Regions from separate parts of the Homo sapiens genome. Here region 1 is linked to region 2. A link means that fine-mapping ties the variant in region 2 to the expression of a gene that starts in the linked region. Tissue or cell type: whole blood. Region 2 holds a variant in brackets; the other region holds the start of a gene. All regions are shown on one strand. Distances are from middle to middle.

Region 1 (8,097 bases), 260 kb before region 2:
TCTGTCACCCAGGCTGGAGTGTAATGGCACAATCTTAGCTCACTGCAATCTCTGCATCCTGGGCTCAAACTACTTTCCTGCCTCAGCCTCCCAGGTAGCTGGGACTACATGCATACACTGCCATGCTAGGCTAATTTTTGTATTTTTTGTAGAGACAGGGGTCTCCCTATGTTGCCCAGGCTGGTCTTGAACTCCTGGACTCAAGCTATCTGCCTGCCTCAGCCTCCCAAAGTGCTAGGATTACAGGCGTGAACCACCCTGCCCAACAAGATAAAAAAAAAAAAAATTGTTTTGAAATTCCAAATCTTGCCAACATCACTCAGGGCTTCTCTATTTCAATCCATGGCACCCACATGTTCCAGATATTTTTGGAAATCAGTACTCCTCAGTTCACAAATCTTAATGGTTTCTTTTTGCCCTCAGGAGAAAGCTCAAATTCCTTTGACTGGCACTCAAGGCTAATTACATCTTACTCCAACTTAGCTTTGGGGCCTCATCAACCACTACTCTCCTATGCAAAATTTCTGATCCATCCAAATGGATCTCCTTATCGCCTCAAAAAAACACCCCTCACATTATTTCATCTTAGGAAAATTCTTCCTAATTTTTCTTCACCAATATGGATTATTCAAGGTCTAGCTCAAGTGACATCTTATTCTCACTGTCATTCTGGATAGCAACACACTTTGAAAACCATTAGGTAGTTCTTAATATTGATGGCTAAGATATTGTTAATTGCTGTTGTGAGGCATGAGCACAAAATGAGATGGAGGTGACAGGAAATATAGTCACTATCCTTAAACCACAAATTTTACATTCCTAACTAAACTCCTTGAAAAGCAATGACCAGCATTACTAATCTCTCTCTCCATCTCACCCGCCTCATACACCCAGCATTTGCCCAGAACATATATTCAATATCTGTCAACTGACTGATACAAATAGCTACAATCAGAATAGGGAAGGCAAAAGAAAGATTAAAAGAAACCGCTGGTGGACATCAACCACTAACTAATCAAAGGGATGTCAACTTCTCCATGTTTCAGTTTTTTCAATTATAAAATGTAGACAGTAATGCTACCTCAAAGGGCTATTCTAAGTATTAAATACTACTTATATTAAATACTGCATGTAAGTGTGTTGTGAACTTCAAAGTACTATACCAATATTTGTTGCTATTTCCCTCAAGTCATGATGTGGAAATAAGACTTGAGACAATGAAAGGCATCTGGGAGGCTGGGCGCAGTGGCTCACGCCTGTAATCCTGGCACTCTGGGAGGCCAAGGTGGGCGGATCACCTGAGGTTGGGAGTTTGAGATCTGCCTGACCAACAGGGAGAAACCCTGTCTCCACTAAAAATAAAAAATTAGCTGGGTGTGGTGGCACATGCCTGTAATCCGAACTACTCGGGAGGCTGAGGCAGGAGAATCGCTTGAACCTGGGAGGCGGAGGTTGTGGTGAGCTGAGATTGTGCCATTGCACTCCAGCCTGGGCAACAAGAGCAAAACTCTGTTTAAAAAAAAAAAAAAAAGAGGCATCTTGGAGACCAAACATGTCCAAAATAACTCTTGATTTCCACCTCTTCAAACTTGTTCCTTCCTCATCTTCCAAGTCTCCGTACCCATACACCCAATTATTCAAGCCGAAAACTTAAAAAGGCATCAATTCCTCTATTTCCTTCACTTCTATATACAATATATATTTTTAATTGAGACAGGGTCTTCCTCTATCATCCAAGCTGGAGTGCAGTGGCACAATCATGGCTCACTGCAGCCTCAACTTCCTGGGCTCAAGTGATTTCTACCACCTCATCTTCCTAGGTAGCTGAGACTACAGGTGCATGCTGCTATCCCTAGCTAATTTATTTTTATTTTTTGTAGAGATGGGGTCTCATTATGTTGCCCAGGCTGGTCTCAAACTTTTGGGCTCAAGCAATCCTCCCACCTCAGCCTCCCAAAGTGCTGGGATTACTGGCGTGAGCCACAGCGCCTGGCCCTGTATTCAATTTTTCAACCCTGTCAGCTCTACCTCTAACATCCTGTATCCATTTACTTCTCTATGCCCTGCTATGCTCTGGTTCAAACCATTATCTTTCCTGGACTACTGAGCAGTAACTTCTGACTAATTTCCCCACTTTCTATTTGTCATGTGGCTGCTTAAATGATTATAAACAAGTGCATTTGACCAACTTCCTATGTTAAAATGGCTTTCCTTGGCTGGGCACAGTGGCTCAGACCTATAATCCTAGCACTTTGGGAGGCCAAGGCGGGAGGACTGCTGTTGGCCAGGAGTTCAAGACCAGCTTGCGCAACACAGTAAGACCCAGTCTCTACAAAAAAATTTTAAGTTAGCCAACTGTGGTGGTGCATGCCTGTAGTCCTAGCTACTTGGAAGGCTGAGGTGGGACGACAGCATGAGCCTAGGAACTGGAGGTTACAGTGAGCTATGATTATACCACTGCAGTCCAGCCTGGGTGACACAGTGAGACCTTGTGTCTATAAAAAAATTTTTTAAATGGCTTCCTTTTGTATTTACAATCTAAATGCCTTTACTGCTTTATAAAAGCCTCTGCCTAACTCTCCCAGCTTCATCTCTCTCCCTAACACTCTTTCCTTTTGTTCACTTCACTGGAGTCCAACTGATTTTCTGTCCCTCAGATATTCTAAGCTTTTTCTCACATCAGGGTTTCTGACCTCATTTCTTGTATCTACAATTGTCTCTCCCTCCTGTCCATACATGGCTGGCCCTTTGTCTATGCTTACATTTTAGTTCAAATGTTAGCTATGTGAAGAGAGCATCTCTGGCCACTCTAGCTAAAGTAGTTCTGCCCCTCAATTTTTTTTTTTTAAGAGACAGGGTCTCATCTGTTGCCCAGGCTGGAGTGCAGTGGCACAATCTTGGTTCACTGCAGCCTCGACCTCCTGTGTTCAAGCGATTCTCCTCCCTTAGCCTCCTGAGTAGCTGGGGCTACAGGCATGCATTACCACGCCCGGTTAATCTTGTATATTTTGTAGAGACTGGGTCTCGCCATGTTGCCCATGCTGGTCTCAAACTCCTGGGCTCAAGGGATTCTGCCTCGGCCTCCCAAAGCGCTGGGATTACAGGCGTGAGCAACGCGCCTGGCCACCTTCAATTTTTATCATGTTTTCTTTTCCTAGCATTAACCACTTTCTGACATTATCTTGTTTACAATGCCTCCTCCACTGAAATGTACATCCCAAAAAAGGCAAGCATCTTGTCAGTCTTGTTCACAACTGTCTCCAGCATTTAGAAAAGTGCTTGGTACATAGGTACTCAACAAAATAATTTTTTGAATGAAGAGTTTGGTTCGATTCTTATCCCTTTTTTGATCAGACCAGGAAATGCCGGAACCTTAGAAGGAAGAATGGCAACTTGCCCCAAACCAATAGCAAGTCTGTGGGAGACCTGTAACTAAAACTTTGGGTCCCCAAAGATATTAAATCAGGCCTCTCGAGTTCCAAACTCAAACCCTGGATTTTGTTTGTTTTGAGACGGAGTCTCGTTCGCCCAGGCTGGAGTGCAGTGGAGCAATGTCGGCTCTCTGCAACCTCCGCCTCCCGGGGTTCAAACGATTCTCCCGCCTCAGCCTCCCGAGTAGCTGGAATTAAAGGTATACGCCACCACGCCCAGGTAATTTTTGTGTTTTTTGTGGAGACAGGGTTTCATCATGTTGGCCAGGCCGGTCTCGAACTCCTGACCTTAGGTGATTCGCCCGCCTCCGCCTCCCAGAGTGTTGGGATTACAGGCGTGAGCCACCGCGCCCAGCCCTAGGTCATTTTTTAGAGAGACATAAACCAGTGTCAGGGACACAGCCTGGACATGGTGCAAAAGACAGTAACGGAGATGCACTACGCCCCTGCCCGCCATTCATCCCTTTGGTTGAATTCAACTCATCCTGGTTGAATTCAAGTCATCCCTCTGCTTGTGAATCCTAACAGCGCTTCCGACTTAGGGCTCCACAGTCCGGGTATGCGTTGCCTAGGTTACCTCGCACCTCCGCTAGCCGGCTGAGAGCCACGCCCATCACCTCCTCTCTAAGATTTGATTGGCTGGCTTTGGCAAGGCCGAGTACTCACCTGGCAGTTCCCTCATGAGGTAAAAAGGGCCACAGCCAGCTCCTGACTTGTCCGCGCCAGGAGGAGCCGTGGCCGCGGTGGGAGGCGGGGCCGTGCCGGGTCCCCCGCCCGCAGGAGGCGGTGGCGGGGGTGGAGGCTTTCCTGGTCCGAAGCCGAGTGCGGTTGGGGGCGGTGGTGGGTCAGCCTGAGCCCCAAACAGTGCCGTGAAATTCTCCATCGTACCCTCCGCCCCGGCGCTGTCTCCGTGTCTGCCGTTGGTAATTTTCATTGGACAATGCTTTCAAGGAGTACCCCCCCGCCCTTTCTCAAGGAGCCGCTTGTCATTGGATGCCTCAGGCACCGCCTACCTTTTTTCAACAACTACTTCCGTCGCCTTATGAGAACGTTCAGGAAGTGCTATTTAACCTTATTAGAGTCTTCTGCTAGCTCTGCTTGCTACAGTCCAATAAAATGACTTAGGCGGATAAAGCGACAACTAGACTAACCAATAAAATATTAAGTTCTTTTTTGGGTTCTGACCTACCACAGCGTTCAGAGAACTACATCCGGGTTTAGAGGCCGTACGTTTGCGATATAGCCCAATAGCAGTCGTTATGGTGGGGGAGGCGGGGCGAGACCTACGACGCCGGCGAGCAGTGGCCGTTACGGCCGAAAAGATGGCGGTCTTGGCACCTCTAATTGCTCTCGTGTATTCGGTGCCGCGACTTTCACGATGGCTCGCCCAACCTTACTACCTTCTGTCGGCCCTGCTCTCTGCTGCCTTCCTACTCGTGAGGAAACTGCCGCCGCTCTGCCACGGTCTGCCCACCCAACGCGAAGACGGTAACCCGTGTGACTTTGACTGGGTGAGCCTCCCGCGTGTTAGTACCCCGCGACCTTGACTGTCCCTGCCCTTGCAGGTGTATCTGGGAACCCTGGGGTTTACCTCTCTGAGGACACCTGAGGTTCCGAGCCTGTAGCGGACTTAGAGACTATTAAGTGCAGGGTCCGAACCATCATCGAGTCTAAACTTTGTGTTTAAGATGGGAAAACGGAACATGTTAGTCGTAGCCCATGCACAACGGCCCAACAGCTTTTGACTGTTGAGTCCAGGTTTCTTTCTGTTTCACCATTGAGACTAATTAACAGCCCTATCAAAACTGTACATACACGTGTATAACGTTTTACAGTGCCGCTCATTATGTAAAGCCTCCTGAGGAGCCAGTAAGGTAGACAAGGCAAGTAGTAATATTCCTGTTTCATTGGTGAAGAAATGGATCTCGGTATATTTAGGTGACTTGCCCCAGGTCATACAACTAATGAGTGCCTGGGACTTGAAACTACTCTTCTGGCCACACTACCTGCACAACACTGTCAGCCGCTTCTTAATTCAATAAACATTTCTAGAGTGTACACTCTAGGCACTCTGCTTGATCCTGAAGATGCGAAAGTGGATAAAATTTGGGGGCTACTGTAAAGGAATTGTAAAAAATACGTTGTAAAGAAATCTTTGGGATTTCTTTGGGAAGTGTCCCAAGCTCCTTGCTGTGCTTCCTTGGTATGGGTGGAGGGACTGCTCGGAACATAAACTTAAAGCACTTTCCCTTCTGCCATATAGCATGTAGGGGCCAAGGAAAAGCTTCCCCTTTGCTCTCTGAGGGTTTGTTGAAAAATCAACCGACAAAGGGCACATTAATAGGAGAAAGGCATAGAAATTTTATTTTAACGTGCATAGCATGAGGGAATTGCAGGAGAATGACCCAGTGGGGTACAGATGCTTATATACCCTCTTTCATAGGAATATGGGAGATGGGAAAATGTGGGTGATTTTAAGGTGGATCGTAAATGATTTTTAGGGTGATTCAGTGGCCTGGAGAACATACAGTGGCCTGGGACAATGACTGTTGGGCCTGCAGAGCAGACAATGGTTTCTGACAAAAATCTGTCCAGGTGTGTTGACAGGCTTCCATCTTTCTTCTTGTACTGAAGTAAGTTAATGAAAACTCAGGGAAGAGACCAGAAGTAATTGTTGTCTTCTTTGACAGGTCTGGACTTTAGGCAGATAAGGTAGTTATCAGAGTAAAGCTGCTTCCAGTATCTGCTGGTTTCCAGGGACCTTTAATTTAAAATGATTAGCATACAGGATGCCATATTTTGGGGTGTGAGTCCCTGGTCTTCTTTATTTCCTTTGTCTGAAACTTCCTTAGAAGTTTCACTATAAGCTGAGTTGGTGTCTGTGGAGAGAGAAATCGGGCTAGTAATTGAGCGGCAAAGGATCCCATTAAACCAGCCTCTCATTTTGGGGGATAGTCCAGTTCAATTAAATTGTTGTGTCTCATTTCAGAAGATGGCATTGTAGATGAGTTCTCAAAGCTAGGCCTCTGTATATGATGTAGGCAAACAGGTATTTAATAAGAGAGACATTTCTATGGAACAAGACAAACAAAGCTTAATATCTGGTATAGTCTATAAACTAGTTTCTTTAGAGTCTGGAGGGCAGTCAATTGGGAAGATTAATAGCAATCTATTTTCCTAGATTGTAGGTTGTGTGTAAAGTTTGTCCAAATATAAGCTTTTGTGGTGATTTTTTTTTCAAAGTCACGTTGACTAGCTTTAGCTGGTAAGGCCTTAGGAAAAAGGCAGGGTTTTTAGTTTTTTGGATTTTTTTTTGAGACAAGGTCTTGCTCTGTCATCCAAGCTGGAGTGCAGTGATGTGATCATGGCTCACTGTAGTCTTAACCTCCTGGGCAAAGCCATCCTGCCACCTCAGCTTTCCAGGTAGCTGGAACCAAAGGCATGCACTACACACCTGGCTAATTTTTAAAAATTTTTTTTCAAGGTGGGGTCTCTTGATGTTGCCCAGGCTGGTCTTGAACTCCTGAGCTCAAGGGATCCTCCTGACTTGGCTTCCTAAGGAGCTGGGATTTACAGGTGTGAGCCACTGCGCCAAGCTAAAAAAGGCCGTTTTAATTTTTAGTGATTCTAAGTCAGAAGAGTGGGTGAAAAATGGAAAACATTAGTCTGGAGGTTAGCAATTTTATGAGTCCAGTTTTATTTTCATTAGACTTTGGAAATTTTTACCCAGTCCGGTGATACAGTTTCAAAGTTATCAGAAACCTTTATTTGTCAGCATTCTTCCCATGCTTTCCATGATCCTCCTTGAAAATAAGACACTTGGCCAGGCATGGTGGCTCACATCTGTAATCCCAGCACTTTGGGAGGCTGAGGCGGGTGGATTTCCTGAGCTCAGGAGTTCGAGACCAGCCTGGCCAACATGGTGTAACCCCGTCTCTACTAAAAATACAAAAAATTAGCTGGGTGTGGTGGTGGGTGCCTGTAATCCCAGCTACTCTGGAGGCTAAGGCAGGAGAATCACTTGAACCTGAGAGGCAGAGGTTGCAGTGAGCCAGGATCGTGCCATTGCACTCCAGCCTGGGCAACAAGAGCAAAGTTCTGTCTCAAAATAAATAAATAAATAAAATTAAAAAAATATATTTTATATATAATATATATGTATTAATGTGCTTTTAATACTAAAGCTGATTTTAATAAACTTTACAAACAAATCTGTCTAATCTTGATCAGCTTTGACTAGACAAGATAAAATTTCCATAAACCTTTTATAACCTCTTAGAATTTGTTTTCTTTTTTTTTTCTTTTATTGATCATTCTTGGGTGTTTCTCGCAGAGGGGGACTTGGCAGGGTCATAGGACAATAGTGGAGGGAAGGTTGGCAGATAAACAAGTGAACAAAGGTCTCTGGTTTTCCTAGGCAGAGGACCCTGCCGCCTTCCGCAGTGTTTGTGTCCCTGGGTACTTGAGATTAGGGAGTGGTGATGATTCTTAACGAGCATGCTGCCTTCAAGCATCTGTTTAACAAAGCACATCTTGCACCGCCCTTAATCCATTTAACCCTGAGTGGACACAGCACATGTTTCAGAGAGCACAGGGTTGGGGGTAAGGTCACCGATCAACAGGATCCCAAGGCAGAAGAATTTATCTTAGTACAGAACAAAATGAA
Region 2 (8,105 bases):
GAATACAATAGGCTATTCTTGTAACTCAGATGTGACTGGGCACCATGAGTAGTCTCTGTTCTTGACCCTACACCCACCTTGAGGCAGGATCTTTGTTATCATTTCCCAAAAATCCAGTGCAACCAAGGATTAATGAGTAATGACAATTTTACTGAAAATTTCTTGGGGAGACTGAAAAGCTGTCTGTGTCCCGGGGAGGTAGTTTTGATCTATGGCAAAACCTAATAAAAATTCCCAGGAGACATATATGCTTTCTTTCCAAAGAGGAAAGGTTTCACATTTCCTTTATCTCTTTTCTCTGTGTTCTTGGGCAAACAATCTCATTTCTTTCAAGGTTTCCAGGCTCTCAGCCTGTCATCTATTCCTCTGGAAAAACGAAGGACCACTCCCTTCAGAAGGGAGCTAGAATGTGGGGTGTGAGGACCGCTTGTAAGTAGTTGATAATTCACCCCCAGGCATTTGATAATCCAATTTGCCCTCAGAGGGATGAATGGAGTAAAGGAAAAGAGAGACCCTGTGGTACCCCTCTTATGTCTCCAGGACTGGGATTCCCCCAGAGGAACCGGCTCCTCTTGGACACAGTTCCTCAGTTTATAGCCCTCTTTGCACTGTGTATGCTGAGGGGAGTGGGCTGTGCTTGAAGATTTGATGGGTCCCACCTGGTAGGTAGCTTTATGATCAAACAAACAAACAAACAAACAAACAAAAAACAAGAGAAAGGGAAGGATTTCCAGCTTGGACCCTCAGCCACTTCCTTCCTCCTCTGAGCCACTGACTGTGCCTGAACCTCAAAAAGGAACATGCTTGAATTCCCCACATCTTTCCACCTTGCCCTTGAGGTGATGACCCTGAGACCTGCCTTAAACAAAGAAGTCATAATAAAGCACCTCCACCCCAGCCCTGACGCTGCTGCATCTCATTGCAGTCTCTTCCCCCAGGCAGACATTTCTTTCATTTCTCTCTATGTTATTTTTGAATTCAACTGAAAAATAGAAGCCACATGTACACAATTACTAAGCATTTTAGTTCATCTTCAAAGATGTTCATGGACTGTTCACTGACTGCTCTTTGTCTTTACCTTTGGAGTCTGTTTCCTATTGCTGTTGAGTGCATCGTCATCCCTCCTTACCCTGATATACACATTTTGCCACTGAATCATAGATTGATTGAATGACTTATTCATTCATTCGTCAAATGTTATTGAGCACTCACTATGTGCCAGGCTGTGTTCTAGGCATTGGGGATATAGTGACAAATAAGAATGAGATGATTCCTGTTCTCATGGCTCTTAGGTTGTGATGAGAAAGGCCAGTATAAACAAATGAGAATGTATCAATCAGTGATAAATTCTTTGAAGAAAATCAACCAAGAATGACAGACAGGACTGTGTTAGGATGTACTCACATTGGGTGAATAAAGAAGGTCTTGGCTGGGCGCAGTGGCTCATGCCTGTAATCCCAGCACTTTGGGAGGCCGAGGTGGGTGGATCACCTGAGGTCAGGAGTTCAAGACAAGCCTGACAAACATGGTAAAACCTCATCTCTACTAAAAATACAAAAATTAGCCAGGCATGGTGGCGGGTGCCTGTAGTCCCAGCCACTTGGGAGGCTGAGGCAGGAGAATGGCTTGAACCCGGGAGGTGGAGGCTGCAGTGAGCCGAGATCATGCCTCCGCATTCCAGCTGGAGTGACAGAGCAAGACTGTCTCAAAAAAAAAAAAAAAAAAAAAGGTCTTTATAATGAGGCGCATTTGTGATTTCAACTTTTAGAGTTTACAAAATAAATTTAGCCTTTACCTTTTACTCCTTCCTCTGAGAGTTTGAATTTATGAGTTGGTGTTCTAATGGAGTTGGTATTCTTATAGATAACTCCATCTCAGAGGTAAATATAAATCTAGAACTGGGATTGGCTAATGTCTTTTGTAAAGGGCCAGATAATACACATTTTTGACTTTGCAGGCTATCTAGTCTTGTCACAACTATAGAACTTCGTTGTTGATAGCATGAGGGAGGCTGCTATGTTCCAATGCAAATTTGTTTATAAAAATAGGGGCAGGCCATGTGTGGTCCACTAACCACAGTGTATGGGCCTCTGATCTAGACTGCACTTTGTCTTTATTTACTTCAAAGTGACAGCAGCAGCCCCTTTCCTTCAAGGAGAAAGATCCCTCCCCTAAATAGTCCTTTGCTTTAATTTTTCTTAATTAAAAGAAAATTTAAAAATTAAATTAAAAGAAAATTTCAAATTAAGATGGACTAATTCAGAAAATTTATACAATATACAAGAAAAAGAAGTAAAATAGTGAAAATCTTATCCTTACCTTCAAACACTCTAAGAATAACCACTGTTAATAGTTTGATATATGTTTTTTCAGATTTTAAATGTGTGTGTATATATATCATATATAACATATATGTTACATATATAACATATCTATTACATATATTATATATTACATATAACATATATATGATATATATACATACAGACATCCACAGACAGGGGTTTTGTTTTTGTTTTTTTTTCTTTCCTTCCTTTTGCTTTTCTTTTCTACCTTTCTTTTCCTCTCCCTCTCCCTTCTTTTCTCCCCTGCCTCCTTTTCTTTCTCCACTCCTCCCTTTTTGCTTTCTAACACATATGGTATCATTCCGAAATACTGTTCCGCAACTTGCTTCCTTCACCCCGCATTACATCACTGTATGCCTGTTTGGGTTGGAGAGGCGCACATTCCACAGTTGGTGCCCTGTTGTTGCCAAACGACATGACGTGAGTGTCGGATTATTTTCGGTGAGTGGTGTTAGAAGCAGGTGCGAGTGCAGGCCTTATGCATCTCCACCCACACAAGCTTGCTGCTGCCGGAGTGTTGGTATGAGAGCAAGTCTCAGACCAAATGCCAGCAACTGTACAGTCCTTTCTTGGCTCGCAGGCATGAACAGCTGGTCTGGAGTTTGGAAGGGGGCTCTGCTTGTGTGGTCAGCCACGCTGACCAGCACTGTAATGAAAATCTCGTTCTAAAGCAGATACCCGCTTACAGCAGGATGGGCAAACTCCTCCAAAAAGTAGAGAAATGGGCCCAAGTGACTTTAGCCCAAGCATCCTCTCCCCATGTAAACTGTTGGGCTTGCCTTAATTTAAAAAAATACGTTATTCATGGAAGGGCCATGAGCCTTGTTACACAATTCTAAGTGAATCACAGATTAGCCCCCACTTCCTTTTTTAGAAAAAGGGAAAGGATAATATAAAAATACCCACATATCTTCTCTCCAGATTCACAGTTATT[A/G]ACATTTTCCCACATTTGCTTTGCCTACTTTTCTTTCTAAGAAATAATATATACATATATTTACCTACACACATACATAAGTCATGAACATATATGGGTCTATATTTTTAAATTTTTATTTTATTTTTAATTGTGGTTATAAACGTATCACATTAAATTTACTATCTTAACTATTTTTGTGTCCAGTTCAATAGTGTGAAGTATATTCACATTGTTGTGCAACAGATCTCTAGAACTTTTTCATTTTGCAAAACTGAAACTTGATGGCCAGAAACAAACTAATTCTCCTTCTCCACTCTCCCCGTCCTTGGCAACCACTTTCTTACTTTCTGTTTTTATAATTTTGACTACTTTAGATATCTCATGTGAGTGGAAAAGTGCTGTATTTGTGCTTTTGTGACTAGCTTATATAACTTAGCATAATGTCCTCAAGGTTTATGCATGTTGAATGTGACAGGGATTTCCTTCTTTTTAAAGGCTGCGTAATACTCCATTTTAATGCATATACCACGTTTTCTTTATCCATTCATCTGTTGATGAACATGTGAGTTTATGCTTATGTATCTTTTTCCAAACTACTTGAAAGTAGTTGGAACATTATGATGCTTTACCCTTAAACACTTCACCTTAAATACTAGCTGCTAAGAAGAAGGCCATTCTCTTACATAACCACAATTACATGATCATGTTTAAGAAATTTAATATGCAGTCTATACTCAAATTCAAATTTTCCCAATTGTTTTAATAATAAAATAATATATCTATTTATTTTGAATCTAAGGTCCAATCAGGGATTATTCATTGCATTTAGTTATCGTGTCCATTAGTTTTTAAATTTAATTTTAATCTAGATTTTTAAAACTTTTATTTTGGAATACTGAAAGTTCTGAAGAGTCCAGACCAGTGTTTTTGCATAATGCTCTATAATTTAAACTTCTCGAATTTTTCCCTATGATTAGATTTAGGCTAGATATTTTTGGCAAGAACTCTACACAGATAATGTGTTCTTCTCATGTAGGAGACACAAAATGTCATTTTTTCCCCATTACTGGTGGTATTAATTTGTTTACATAATTAAGTTGATGTCTGCCAGATTTTATTTCCATTAGGTATCTTTTTCTCTTTGTTATTAAAAAGCGACCTGTGGGGTGATACTCTGAGACTGATTTAGCACCCATTGATAATCCTAACCTGCATCAATCATCACATTGGTGGTTTCGAAGTAAACCGTGTCTTAAACTTTAATTTCTCTAGTGAAAGTTATTTCTAATATTCTTTATGCCAATCAGCTAGCCCTAAGAGGCTGAATAAAATTAACTTTCACACACACCACACTACTCATCCTGATGTAGTTCCTAGTAAATCACTATGAATAACATTTAACACCTATTTGACCTATTTACTGGGTGATCTGAAAAGCCACCAGGTTTGATGAGAGCTGGGCCAGGGGAAAGCATCTCCAGGGGGTAAAAGCTTTTAAGTTGATTGGCTCTGCAGCTAGGCTCTTAAGACCCAGCAAATTTTGTAAGCTGCATGGGACAAATTGGCTTGCTAGGATTTTGGAGGAAAGTCACCTCTTTCAGCAAAGAACTTTTTTCTTTTTTTTAAAAAAAAAAAAAAAAAAGGAAATAACCCCTGACTTGCAATTGGGCTGTACTCTGGTCTGAATATTTGTGTCTCCTGCAAATCCACATGCTGAAATCCTAACCCCCAAGGTGGTGGTATTAGAAGGTGGGGCCTTTTAGAGGTAGTTAGGTCACAAGGGTGAAGTCCTCATGAGTGAGATTAATGCCCTTATAATAAAAGAGACCCCAGAGAGCTGCCTTGTCCCTTCCACCATGTGAGGACACAGCAAGAAGCTGGCAGTCTGCAATCCAGGGGCAGGCCCTCACCAGAACCTGACCGTGCTGGCACCTGATCTTGAACTTCCCAATCTCCAGAATTGGAAGAAATAAATTTCTGTTGTTATGAGCCCCTCAGTCTCAGGTATTTGGTTTTTATAGCAGCCCAAATAGACAAAGACACGCTCTGATGGTTAAGGGTTTGGAAGAAGCAAGACTGGGAAATGGCTGAGGAGGCCTGTGAAGGTGTCTGTGAACTGACCTCTCAGGTAAATGTGAAGTGAGGAGCTATTTGTGGCCCACATGAATGCTTGCCACAAGGCCTTGATACAGAGGGGGCCTTTGTGACTACGTAAGTAGGATGGATGGCCCACTCTGTGAGATGTTAGACTCCTTTCCCAGATATCCCAATGCTCACAAAAATTGGGGTATCCCAGATACCTCAGTGCTCACAAAGTGAGTGTGGTGGCAGGAAGGGAGGCTGTGCCTGTACTCAACAACCCTTTTCCTCTCACCAAGTCTGACCTGCTGTGGTGGAGTGCAGGGACTGTTGGCAGCAGTGGCCAAGTGGCCCTGAGCTCTTGGAATGCTGTGATAACTGGAGGGTGGGGGGAAGGGCAGCCAGCTCCCCAGAGGTAGATTAGCTGTATTGGATTCTTTCCACGATGGAGGAAGTAATGCTTTGTTTCCAAATACTCTGGGTTTGGGTTGGCTTTTGTTGCTTGCCTTAGCTCTGCCAGCACCACCATCCATATGCGAGTGGTTCTCAACCAGGGAAAATCTGGCTTTCAGGGAACACTTGACAATGTCTAGAGACATTCTGATTGTCATATCTTGGGAGGGGGATGCGGCTACTGGCATCTGGTTGGTAGATGTCAGGAATGCAGCCAAACATCTTACAGTGCCTAGGACAGCTCCACAACAAAGAATTATCTGGTTCAAAATGTCAAGAGTGTTGAGGTTGAGAAACCATTTTATTCCATCAAGGTGTCTTCCAGATATCTTAACTATAAAGGAACTTACCTGTAGTTAAAGAAAGAAAGGCAGCTGCGTGCAGTGGCTCACACCTGTATTCCCAGCACTTTGGGAGGCTGAGGCAGGTGGATCGCTTAAGGTAAGGAGCTCAAGACCAGCCCGGCGAACATGGTGAAACCCCATCTCTACTAATAATACAAAAATTAGCTGGGCATGGTGGTGGGTGCCTGTAATCCCAGCTACTCAGGAGGCTGAGGCAGGTGGATTGCTTGAACCTGGGAGGCCGAGGTTGCAGTGAGCTGAGATCGTGCAACTGCTCTCCAGCCTGAGTGACAAAGAGCAAGACTCCGTCCCCCCGACCCCCCACCCACCAACAAAAAAGGCAGTAGTATGTTTAGTAATTGTGTCCAGTTGCAAGTAACTGAAAATATGACTAAATGAGATTTTATTTTTCTCAAGTAAGTTCCCATCTTTGGTTCAGGTGCTTTGAAATGTCAAAGCTGAGGCTGATTGTGATTCTATTTGCTTTCCTTCTTACTGCAAGATGGTCCACTAGAATGTACACACAACAAGGGCAAGGATATTTGCTTACTGCTATATCGCCATAGCTTGGAAGAATGGCAGGTACTCATTAACTGACCATTTGCTGAGTGGAGCGCCAGGCAGCAGAAAAAGAAGAATATGCAAAAGAAGAGATAAGTTTCATGTTAGGAAAATAAAACAGTCCTAGAAAATCCACAGGCAACTTTCACTTGGGCTTCGCTGGCCAGATCTCAGGGACACCTGTAAGGGAGGCTGGAACATATAATTTTCAGCTTGGAATATTGCTGCCAGATACTCAAAAATATTGCTTTTCTGTAAGTAAGGAAGAAGTGGGGATGGATATCTAGTAGCAATAAAGACAATTTTTGATAGGTCTTGGACATGGGCTTGCAGACTTATCTCTAGGCAAGACCTTGAGCATGGAGAATGTGAGAGATTGCAAGATCAGGACCATAGAAATGAAAACTAGAGCAACTGCTTCTCAGAAGACTCATCAGAATCAGCAGAGAAACAGCCTGGTGGTAAACTTGTGACTGCTTCATGTCTGTGACTCAGACAGATGCCTTATTTGCATTCAATCTAATGAATCTGATGTTGACCACACAGTTTGAAAAAAACAAAAATAGACATAAAAGTTCAACAAATGACTTGAGCTGAGATTTATTACAGGTCAGTCTGAAACTAAGAAGATAGTACATTGTTTAAATCAGACAGCCTCACCTTCTTGGGAACTTTATGGCTTTTGCATTTACAAATCTTGCTCTTGTCTTTAGTTGGCGAGAGTGTCTACACAGGGTTCCTGGGCTTTATGTACACTCAGGATTAACTCTGATCCTAACCATGACCCTAGCCCTAGCCCTAACATTAGCCTTATCTCTAACCCTAACTCTAGCCCTAGCCCTAGTCTTAGCCCTAACCCTAACCCTAACTTTAGCCCAAGAAGGTAGGCTTGGTGCCTGCCTGTTTATGAATGATGAAACCTGCAAGGCTTAGGCTAATTGCCTCTGAGTTATTTTTGGCCCCAACCCACAGGACTGAATTTCTCTGTGTTGGATCATATTTTCCCTGCTTTGCCCAGCAGTAAACTCAGATTAACAATCACAGTGATTTAGAATTATTATTTTTTATTTTGTCAGCACCAATTAGGAGTGGCTGCCACAGTGGAGTTTTTCTGGTCAAACATGAGGGATTGAGCATATAATTTTACATGTGATTTCTTCCATGACTCCACTAAAATATTGGCAAAAGGAAAAAAGGTACAAATCTATAAGGACAAAGGGAGCATAAAAGGACAGCAGAGCACCTGGGAGATGAAGAAAGCTAACTCTTAAATCCCTACAGAAGGGAAGGGATGAGCTAGCAAGACATTAGTTAAGTCTCACTGCAGAACTCCCCAAAGACTCAGGAGCTGGAGACATAAGCTATTCTAGAGGCAGGGGTAGGCTGGGGCTAAAAACAGGAAGATGC

The links. PIP is the estimated chance that this variant, and not a neighbour inherited with it, causes the effect.
Region 1: it holds the start of MED19, and the variant in region 2 is fine-mapped to the expression of MED19 in whole blood (TOPMed, PIP above 0.99).

Annotation. Positions count from the first base shown.
Region 1 is chr11:57,707,866-57,715,962 of GRCh38, forward strand. It overlaps MED19 (mediator complex subunit 19), which reads right to left and starts at 4,350. Exons shown (of 5, transcript NM_001317078.4): 1 at 4,098-4,350. The coding sequence starts at 4,314. It overlaps TMX2 (thioredoxin related transmembrane protein 2), which reads left to right and starts at 4,728. Exons shown (of 8, transcript NM_015959.4): 1 at 4,728-4,942. The coding sequence starts at 4,754. It overlaps TMX2-CTNND1 (TMX2-CTNND1 readthrough (NMD candidate)), which reads left to right and starts at 4,658. Exons shown (of 21, transcript NR_037646.1): 1 at 4,658-4,942. RefSeq lists a silencer at 3,981-4,320 and an enhancer at 7,688-8,097.
Region 2 is chr11:57,972,217-57,980,321 of GRCh38, forward strand. No RefSeq gene overlaps it. Among named protein-coding and RNA genes, the nearest start is that of OR9Q1, 48 kb to the right of the region's middle. RefSeq lists a silencer at 6,561-6,855. The variant A/G (reference allele first, on the strand shown) is at 3,280.